Linked DNA regions of Homo sapiens: region 1 is linked to region 2. The links come from fine-mapping of genetic effects on gene expression. A gene starts in region 2. The other region holds a variant in brackets. All regions are shown on one strand. Distances are from middle to middle.

Region 1 (5,210 bases), 83 kb before region 2:
GATCACGAGGTCAGGAGTTCGAGACCAGCCTGGCCAACATGGTGAAACCCCGTCTCCACTAAAAATACAAAAATTAGCTGGGTTTGGTGGCGGGCGCCTGTAATCCCAGCTACTCGGGAGGCTGAGGCAAAAGAATCGTTTGAATCCGGGAGGCGGAGGTTGCAGTGAGCCGAGATCGCGCCATTGCACTCCAGCCTGAGCAACAACAGCGAAACTCCGTTTCAAAAAAAAAAAAAAAAAAAAGATAATTAATTCTTTCTAGGGTATAGAGTGATGGTTAAGGATCCCAGATCTCTTTAAACCCTGTTTTGCCCCTTAGTGGTCATCAGGACTGGGGAGAATGACTTAACCTCCGCTTCCTTATCTGCAAAGTGCGAACGCCAGTACCACCTACCTTATAGGGTTTTGGCAAAGACGACTCGAGAGGTGAGTAAAAGCCCTGGCATGTGCAAAGCACTGAATCAAAGTGAGATTTGTTATCGAGTATTCGCTGTCAAGTGGTCTGGGCTCCCTTCCCCCTAATGGTGGATCGAGAAACTGCGCCCGAAACTAGCAGTAGGGACATTCCGCAGGTGCAGCGAGTGCGACAGGCTGGGGCCCTGCCTCCAGCGCTCGACCACTGGGATCCTCAACCCCGCGCCCGGGTCACTGAGCCACCCCCTCCCCACGCCGCTCAGCGTCTGATTGCGGCCGCGGCCCCTTTAAGATCTCCTGGCAGGCGGTGGGACTGCGGGCTGGAGGCAGTCGGGGGTCTGCGGGGAGGCCCCGCCTAGGTGGGAGAAGAGGCGGGGCGGGCGGGCTCAGCCCAGGAGGCGCTGACCAATAGGAAACCGACTTTGCAGCCGCGCCGCGCGTTGATTTTCTGTTTCCCAGTCAGAGTGGGAACCGAGAAAGGAAGCGCGCGGGCGGGAAGAAGGGACAGTGGGAGAGCATCGCTCCTGGATCTTCTGTTTCTGCGGCCGAGCGGGGAAGGTGTAAGGCGCGGGCGGGCAGAGAGCGAGCGAGATGGTGCACGGTTCTTGCGTGCGTCTGGGAAAAGCGAGAACTTGAGTTCCTGAAGATTAGTGGGTGTGGCGGGGAGGTCAAGTGGAAGGGGATTATGAAACCCAATCCCCGACAGCGCTCTACCTTGCCCCCTTGGGCAAAGGGGGAAAGGGTAAACTGAGGCACGCAGAGGCGGAACTCTGAAACCAGACCTGAGACCACTGAGCTCCCTAGCCCGTCTTCCCAGAAGGAACTCTGGTGTTCCTCGGCTGTGCAATACCAGACCATCCCAGACATTCCCTCCCCACGCCCCCAGCTCCGCCCTCGGTCCCCTCCCCCCAATGCAGGTCGGGGGAGGAGACGCAAGTTCTGGCGCGGGCGGCGACGGCTAGCCGTCACCACCTCCCGCAAGTGCCAGAGCCGAGCGGACTGCGCGGAGGCTGCGGAGCCGGCGGCCGCGGGAGCTGACCCTGCGGGGTCCCGGGGGGGGAGGGGGAGCCGCGAAGCCCCCACTGAGGCCGCCGCTGCCGGGCCTCCCCTCCCCCCCGGGCGGGCGCCATGCGGGGGAGCCCGGGCGACGCGGAGCGGCGGCAGCGCTGGGGTCGCCTGTTCGAGGAGCTGGACAGTAACAAGGATGGCCGCGTGGACGTGCACGAGTTGCGCCAGGGGCTGGCCAGGCTGGGCGGGGGCAACCCAGACCCCGGCGCCCAACAGGTACCCCCACCCCCAGGGACCTCCTCCCCTCCCGGCCCCGCCCGCTCCCGGTTACCCAAGCCCCTGAACTGGGCGGCCGGAGCCACCAGGGACTACCTGTGGCTGGACTCCAGAACCTGTGTCTCTGTCTCGTTCCCCCTACCCACTCGTGTTTGGCCTAACGGGATCGCTCAAGACAGGGACGCCGAGGCCCCAAGCCTGCAGTTCCGCGGCCAACACCCGATCCCCCTGCTGCGGGGCAGGGGGCGTCTGCCTGGGAAGAGATGGGGGCGCTTTCCTGCCCACTGCCCGGGACACACCCTCCTCCAGACTGCACAGCCCATGACGTGCCCTGCTCTCACCTCCAGGAGACACACCCTCCATCCTCTGGGCACCTACTGCCCTGGCCTGCAGCTGCCCCGATCCCTGTGTTTACATTCCCTGGCCTGCCCTTTCATGGGCCGTTCACGGGCCTGGCTCACTGTCCCGGGCTGCCCCAGCCAGGGACCCAATCCTGTCTGCGGTCACCCGCAGCTGGGAATGCACCTATAACAAGACTTTCCTCCCGCTGCCCCCACCTCCACTTTGCAGGTCCTTCCCACACCTGTAGCCCCAGATCGCTCTAAGAGAACCACAGCAACCCTGAGAGCAGTCCAACCTCCCACTTCCCAAATGGGAAAAACCAAGGCCTCAGCCACTCCGCTTGGTTCTCTCCTGCCCCACATCGCCCAGGGCTTCCTCCAAAGGGAACCCCTGGGTCCCCCATGTGGACAGGGTTTTTTAAGAGGCAGCTGGGTTCAACAGGAATGAGATACCTAAAAAAATAACAAAAACTAAAAACAAGAGACAGCTGGAAGGACAGGCTTTACAGATGAGAACTGAGGTTACCATTTCCTGGTTCTGTGACCTTGAACTGGTGACTTGACCTTGCAGAGCCTCAGTTTGCTCACCAGGAAAACTAGACCACTCACACCCACCGCACAGACCTGTGGTGGCTGTAGGGATCTGGCTGAGAAGTTAGCTGACTGAGGGAGAAGTGGGGTGACGTCTTCTATCCCCTTCCTCAAGGCGCTGGGGGCTCTGGGTTCCTAAGGCATAAGGTGACATGCGTCCCCTCCAGATCAGGAGCAGGTTCCTGGAGCCACCTCTATCCCCTTTCCCTCTGTCAGGGTATCTCCTCTGAGGGTGATGCTGACCCAGATGGCGGGCTCGACCTGGAGGAATTTTCCCGCTATCTGCAGGAGCGGGAACAGCGTCTGCTGCTCATGTTTCACAGTCTTGACCGGAACCAGGATGGTAAGGTCGGGCGACCTGCCTGCAGGCCCCAAGGGATAGGGCTGTGGGGGCCCTAGAGACATCAGTGGGGTTAGAACTGGCAGCGCTAGGAGGAGAGGGGGAGGGC[C/T]GCTTCTCCCCGATGACTCATAGGCTATTTCAGGAGCACTCCTCACCCCCTAGCTAGGTGGTTCGAGGCCCAGCCAGCCCATCCCACCTCCTTTCCCTACTGGGGCAGAACCCCGATAATTACCCTTAGATTTTTCTATGGGGCAAAGATACCCTATGCTGTTCCTGGGTCCCCTGTGGGACAGAGATCCCCTCATAGCAGCATCTGGGTTGTGGATATTGCCTCTCAATCCCCCATGGCATAGAGACCCCTACAATTACCCCTGGATTCCTTCATTCATTTACAGAACAGAGAAGCCCCCCCAGTATTTCCCAGTTCCACCTCTCTGACCCCAGTGAGTCAGGGGTCCCCCCACAGCCCTACTGCAAACCTCCTCCTAGGTTTCTGGAGCCCCTGATCTTGCTAGACCACCTCCATTCCAAGCTGTTCTGATCCTTGGTCCTGGGGTTCCCCAGGTGTCCTCACACGCACATCCTTCCCCACCTCCGGCCCCCTCCCCAGGTCACATTGATGTCTCTGAGATCCAACAGAGTTTCCGAGCTCTGGGCATTTCCATCTCGCTGGAGCAGGCTGAGAAAATTTTGCACAGGTGAGTCGCTGGGGGTCTGGAATCCAAAGTAACTCAGGACACAGTGACCCCTTGGCCATCTCTGTCTTCTGGGCTCCAGACCCAGTCCCAAGGAGGATACAGCTGAGAGGTTGGGGCTTTGAAGTCAGACAGATCTGGCCAGGCGCAGTGGCTCACATCTGTAACCCCAGCACTTTGGGAGGCTGAGGCAGGTGGATCACCTGAGGTCAGGAGTTGGGGACCAGCCTGGCCAACATGGTAAAACCCCATCTCTACTAAAAATACAAACATTGGCCAGGCGTGGTGGTGCATGCCTGTAATTCCAGCTACTTGGGGAGGCTGAGGCACGGGAATCCCTTAAACCCAAGAGGTGGAGGTTGCAGTGAGCCAAGATCAGGCCAGGACACTCTAACCAGGGTGACGGAGTGAGACTCCTTCTGGAAAAAAAAAAAAAAAAAGAAAGAAAAATTCAAATTGAAGCCAGACAGATCTGGGACCAGTTGCCTCTCTTAGCCCGTTTCCCCCTCTACAAAATGAGGGTAATACAGCTGGCTATGGTGGCTCACGCCTGCAATCCTGCCACTTTGGAAGGCCGAGGCAGGTGGATCACGAGGTCAAGAGATGGAGACCATCCTGGCCAATATGGTGAAACCCTGTCTCTACTAAAAATACAAAAATTTGCTGGGCATGGTGGTGTGCACCTGTAGTCCCAGCTACATGGGAGGCTGAGGCAGGAGAATCTCTTGAACCCAGGAGGCAGAGGTTGCAGTGAGCTGAGATCGCACCATTGCTCTCTAGCCTGGGCAACAGAGCAAGACTCCGTCTCAAAAAAAAAGAAAAAAGAAAATGATGGTAATATTTGCTACATCTCTAATAGGGTTGATATGAGGACTTGAACCTCCCAAACTGCAAAACCTAGCAGAACTTCACCCCAGCCTAGCCCACCCCCAGGCACTGAACCTGTCCTCCTCCACCCCCTTTCTTCCCCCCAGCATGGACCGAGACGGCACAATGACCATTGACTGGCAAGAATGGCGCGACCACTTCCTGTTGCATTCGCTGGAAAATGTGGAGGACGTGCTGTATTTCTGGAAGCATTCCACGGTGAGGTGGGGGTGGCTTTCCCCAGCTGAAGGCTGTGCCCTCTTCCCCAGGGGGGCCTTGCTCCGATCTCCCCAGGGCTTGGATGGGCTGGACCAGGACTTTCCAGAAGGAGAAGGCACTGGCAGCAGCTGACGGATGAGGGTCTGTTCCTCTCTTCCTCCACTTAGGGTTCAAGGGTCCCATTTGGGACATCTCTGCTGTCTGATTGAAGCGCAGCCCTTGAGACTTACATCGGGGCCTCTGGGGACAGCGTGTGGGGGTTGCGGGTACAGGGAAGAAAGAGCTCACCAGATGGGGTACAAGGCCTCCCACCTTCCACCCACACAGCTCTCTTCTGCTGGGTTCTCTGCCTGGATAAAAGATTCTACGGCTGAACAGAATCGTTCAAAAACCACGGTCTTGGCCAGGCGCAGTGGCTCACACCTAAAATCCCAGCACTTTGGGAGGCCGAAGTGGGCG
Region 2 (5,452 bases):
CTCCCCTTAGTGATAGATTTTCTTGTGATTTGGGATTGGATGCTCATGGCCAGCTGGGGGCTCTGTGGGAATCCGGGGTGGCCTACTTTGCAGGCAGTCCTTCCAGATGGTTCAGCCTTGGCTTTCGCTAGCTACCCAGGAGCGCCAGCCCCAGCCCATTTTGTGTGTGGTTCTCAGCTTGCAGGTGGCCACCAAAGCCAACCCCCCCCACTGCCCCGATTGTGGGTCCCTATGTTTGAGGTTCCCGGTGATGTTTCGGGGGGCTTCTCCCTTCTTACAAGCTCGGTCATGCATATATTTGATCTGGCGTTGCCAGGCATTCTGTAAGGGAGGGCTTTTCCAGTTCCTGGAAATGGAACTGGAAAATGTGGCTGGAAACATTAATATGGCTGGAAATGGAATTTGCCTGCAGCCACTACTTTTGAACCCATCTTCCGGGCAATCCCTTCTGTCTTGCCGGTGGTTGGAAACTTGCAGGTGGAAGTCTTCCCCACCCAGTTCTGCAGCCCTTGGCTGCCGAGCAGGAATGCCTGAGATGTCTGGCTAATTCCTCGGAATGTCCCAGTTCAGGCCAACCTCCCTCCCCCTTCTCCCACCAGGCCTTCTTGGGCAGCAGGGAGGCAGCTCTGGAGGGAGCCGCTGCCTCAGCAGTTTCGCCCCAGCCACCCCCACTGCCTGGGCCTTCATGTAAGGAGGCTGGGTGGTGAGGCCCTGTGGTGAGGAGCAGGGGTTTTGCATTCACGGAGGACCTGGGTTCAAATACCAGGACCGTTGCTTAATTCTGGGTGACTTCAGGCTTTTTTTTTTTTTTTTTTGAGATGGGGTCTCGCTCTGTCGCCCAGGCTGGAGTGCAGTGACATGATCTCCGCTCACTGCAGCCTCCGCCTCCTGGGTTCAAGCAATTCTACCTCAGTCTCCTGAGTAGCTGGGATGACAGGCACGCCCCACCACGGTCCAGCTAATTTGTTTTTTGGGTTTCTGAGACGGAGTTTCATGCTGCTGCCCAGGCTGGAGTGCAGTGGTGCAATCTTGGCTCACTGCAGCCTCTGCCTCCTGGGTTCCAAGCGATTCTCCTGCCTCAGCCTCCCGAGTAGCTGGGACTACACCCAGCTAATTTTTTAATAGAGACGGAGTTTCACCATGTTGACCAGGCTGGTCTTGAACTGACCTCAGGTGATCTGCCCACCTCGGCCTCCCAAAGTGCTGGGATTACAGGCGTGAGCCACTGTGCCTCGCCTAATTTTTGTATTTTCGTTAGAGACAGGGATTCACCATGTTGGCCTGGCTGGTCTCAAACTCCCGACCTCAAGTGATCCTCCCACCTCACCCTCCCAAAGTGCTGGGATTATAGGCATGAGCCACTGGGCCCCGCCAGGCTTTTTTGAGACAGTATCGCTCTGTCGCCCAGGTTTGAGTGCAATGGCACAATCTCAGCTCACTGCAACCTCCACCTCTCAGGTTCAAGCAATTCTCCTGCCTCAGCCTCCCGAGTAGCTGGGATTACAGGCGCCCACCACCATGCCCAGCTAATTTTTGTATTTTTAATAGAGATGGATTTCACCATGTTGGTCAAGCTGGTCTCAAACTCCTGACCTCAGGTAATCCACCCGCCTCAGCCTCCCGAGGCATGAGCCACCACGCCAAGCCCAGGCTTTTCTTTCCATCGGAAAATTATCATCTCAATAAGCACTTCAGTAAGAAAAACCACAACATAATCATCGAAGCAATCCCTCACGGATGGAGTTGAGGCCACTTCCAGACTTTCCTAATATGAAGAAGGCATCAGATGTCCCTGTGCTGGCTGTTTCACTTGCCTGTGTGGGAGGAACCCCGCAAACAGGGCTCCTGGGGCAGAGGGTGTAATTTACAATTCCCCAGTAGCAGCTGCTCATCCAAAGAGCTGCTAGCAATTTACACCCCCACCAACAGCACAGGGTGCACCTGGGTCACACGGGTTGTGTGTGAGGGTTTTCTGATTTTCCCCAATCTTGTGGGTGCTTAGAGTCAAGCACCCCTTCGGACAATCACAAGCTGTTTGCTTGTTTTTGCATTCGAAGCTACGGGCACTGCCTTACACTCTAAGTGCCCATCTCTTTCCTCACCAAGCCGAGTAGGAGGGGTTCTGAGGAGCTCCCCTGTACCGGTGAGGGGACTGGGCTCACACGGGGCTGGGTATGGAAGCCTCGAGAGCCCTTATCTGTCTGCATCGTGCTAGACGTTACCATGACCTGGACAGCCTCCATCGCCCCGGGGGCTCTGACATGCTCAGATCCCAGGATGGGGCTGCAGTTATAGGGGTCTCAGGTTGGCCTTCCCGAGACAGGCGTCCCTGTCCCCTTGTGTCCCCACCCTTGGCTGTCCCCAGGCCTCTCCCTTTTCCTGTTTTGATGCTGGCTCAGCCAGGCCCGGAGACAGGGGCATGATGTCCTAATCCTCCAGGCGGGAGCCACCATGGAGGGTTCCCGTGGACTCAGTCCCCTGCCAAGCCACCTTTCCCAGCACTCACATATGCTCCACCTGGCACATGATACACGTGGGGGCTCCTGAGCCCCAGCACCCTGACTTAGTGGGGAGGGACCCCACCGGGGTCCCATGAAGCCCCCTGACTTCCACTCCAGGCAGCAGGTCGGGGGAACACCAGTTGCCTGCCCTGGCCGCCAGCACAGCACTCGTAAATCAGGGGGTGTCTGGGGCGTCGGAAATGGCTGTGTGGAATGTCGGGGTGGGGTAGGCTGGGGGTGAGCCCTTAACTCTTAGAAGGGTGGGGTGTGGGGCAGAAGGAGCAGATGCCTGGATTCGAGGGTGCAGGAGATGGGCTGGTGCAGACGTGGGGCCTCCTGGCTGCAGGGGCCGGCAGTGAAGAGGTTAGCTCCCAGCCCAGGCAGGGCATAAATTTGGGGCACAGCTCCCACTCTCAGGACCTGCCCGTCACAATGGCCGTAGGGAAGTTCCTGCTGGGCTCCCTGCTGCTCCTGTCCCTGCAGCTGGGACAGGGCTGGGGCCCCGATGCCCGTGGGGTTCCCGTGGCCGATGGAGAGTTCTCGTCTGAACAGGTGGCAAAGGCTGGAGGGACCTGGCTGGGTAAGGACTTCCAGGGACCCTCTGTGACTTCCCAACTTTCCCCAGCCCTGACCCTGCTCACTGTCAGCGCCCTTCCCTCCCACAGGCACCCACCGCCCCCTTGCCCGCCTGCGCCGAGCCCTGTCTGGTCCATGCCAGCTGTGGAGCCTGACCCTGTCCGTGGCAGAGCTAGGCCTGGGCTACGCCTCAGAGGAGAAGGTCATCTTCCGCTACTGCGCCGGCAGCTGCCCCCGTGGTGCCCGCACCCAGCATGGCCTGGCGCTGGCCCGGCTGCAGGGCCAGGGCCGAGCCCACGGCGGGCCCTGCTGCCGGCCCACTCGCTACACCGACGTGGCCTTCCTCGATGACCGCCACCGCTGGCAGCGGCTGCCCCAGCTCTCGGCGGCTGCCTGCGGCTGTGGTGGCTGAGGGTGCCCGGCCTGGCACCCAGAAGCTGCAGTGCTGGGGGAGCTCGGCTGACTTATTTATTGGAGACCTGGATGCAGAGACAACGAGGAGGGGAGTGGGCTGGGGCGACCAGCAGTGAGTGCAATAAAGGACACCACTCTCCCGGCCTTGTGACTTTGACCATGTGTCCAGCCAGCCACACCTGGAGCTCCCTATGGGCCAGTGCCATCCTGGGTTCCCCTGCAAATCCCGGCCCCAGCAAGCAGCCACTGCAATGTCCCAGTTAGGCTGTCCATTCCCCAACTTTATTCACAAATCTGGTGTCTGTAGAAAGCTGGGGGTCAGCAGGCTGGGGGCGGCTGTCCAGACTCCCCTGGCCCCATGCCCTCAGGGAGGGAGCGGCAGATCACGGAGATGCGCCGGCCCCGGGGAATCCGGCGTTCCCCAAAGAAGGACTCTTCATCCCGAAGGATCTCATGGGAGAAGTCATAACGGGCTGAGCCCCTGCAGGAAGAAACAGGCTGTGACTGGGTGCAAGGAGGGCAGCCCCTGCTCCAGGCAGACCTGGATTCCAGCCTCCTGGATTCCAGCCCCCTGCTGCCTCCCACACAGACCCTGGGGTAAAGGCGTCTTCGGGGAGGGCTGGATTGAGGGAAAGTACCCAGGGCACAGGGTGGGCGGATGGCACATTCTTGGAGGGGTGGGTGCTGCCTGGATGGAGGTACCTAAGGATGTAGAGGGAGCCCGGCTCCAGCAAGAGTTCCAGCCACTCCCCCGGCTCCTGGGTGTGCACCAGCCGCATAACGCTGGGAGACAGGAGAGACAGGCCGGCGATGGTGGCCCCGCAGAACTGCAAAAGAGGCGTGGGGATGGGTCAGGATCTAACCGGGCCTGCCTACCCCCTGGCTGGGAGTGCCAAGGCACCGTCCTCTGCCCACCTTGATGCTGTCCACGTGGGGCTTGATGTAGCCGCGGGCTTCCAGGTCCAGCACGTGCACGGAGGAGAGCAGGGTCTGGCCGGGGCCAAAGGCGGCCGCCTGCACGCGCTGCAGGATGGCCCGGCTGGCTTCTGACCAGCGCGACTTCTCTGTCTCTCGGAAGCCGTGGATGGCCTGCACAGAGAGCTCGGTTAAGCCTGGGAGCTCCCAGAGGGAACAAGGAAACTGAGGCAAGGAGGGGCAGAAAACGGCAAGGGGCTGGTTTCCCTATGTGACTCTTGACCCTGCCCTCAACTCAAACTCCCCTAGCCCCTCAACTATGGCCCTACCTAGGTGTGACCTCAGTCCTTAGTACTCACCCTGAGGCTACAATTCCAGGTCCCCAATGCTGGCCCGGCCCCAGCATTCAATTGGCTGAATCTCCCTACAACTTGACCCCACCCAAGTGTCCTGTCTCTGTCTCTCAACATCATCTGGCTCCACATCCGTTTCCGCCCCTAACCTTGGTCCCAGGTCGCAAAAGTGCTCTCCCTGACCCCAAGGTCCTCATCCCCCAGGTCCCGCCCCTCCCACAGCCAGAGTTTCAGCCCAGCCCCCACCATAGCCCAGCTCCCAAATCCCTGCAATAGCTACCGACCCCAAAAAGGCCCTGCCCCATCCCAGCATGTGTCTCCCCTATCTCCGCCCCCAGCGTGGTTCTGCCCTCTCTAAACCTCGACTTCCCCGTCCCCCCCACAGCATGGCCCCAACCCATCCCGGCGCTTGACTCCACGGACCCCGCCCCAAGCTTGGCCCCGCCCCATCCATGCGCTCGACGACCTGACCACGCCCCAATCCCAGCCGCCACGTTCTTCTGCACTGTAACTGCTAGCAGCGTAATCGCACCCCAACCCTACACCCGACTCCCTGGCCCCACCCCCACGCTCGACTGCGCTGTAACCGCCCCCAAGCGTGGCCACGCCCCATCCCAGCACTGGTCCCCACTGTCCCCGCCCCCAGCGTGGCCACGCCCCGTCCCTACGCTCGCCTCCTGTCCCGCCCCCAGA

Evidence for each region. PIP is the estimated chance that this variant, and not a neighbour inherited with it, causes the effect.
Region 1: its variant is fine-mapped to the expression of PSPN in whole blood (INTERVAL, PIP above 0.99).

What each region holds. Positions count from the first base shown.
Region 1 is chr19:6,455,961-6,461,170 of GRCh38, reverse strand. SLC25A23 (solute carrier family 25 member 23) reads left to right here and starts at 1,379. Exons shown (of 10, transcript NM_024103.3): 1 at 1,379-1,698; 2 at 2,847-2,973; 3 at 3,581-3,668; 4 at 4,640-4,751. The coding sequence starts at 1,543. RefSeq lists silencers at 688-867, 1,378-1,517, 1,568-1,627. The variant C/T (reference allele first, on the strand shown) is at 3,080.
Region 2 is chr19:6,373,331-6,378,782 of GRCh38, reverse strand. It overlaps PSPN (persephin), which reads left to right and starts at 2,850. Exons shown (of 2, transcript NM_004158.5): 1 at 2,850-3,081; 2 at 3,167-3,635. The coding sequence starts at 2,934. The coding sequence ends at 3,489. ALKBH7 (alkB homolog 7) reads right to left here. Exons shown (of 4, transcript NM_032306.4): 2 at 4,407-4,580; 3 at 4,194-4,318; 4 at 3,533-3,972. The coding sequence ends at 3,810. RefSeq lists a silencer at 5,266-5,452 and an enhancer at 5,335-5,452.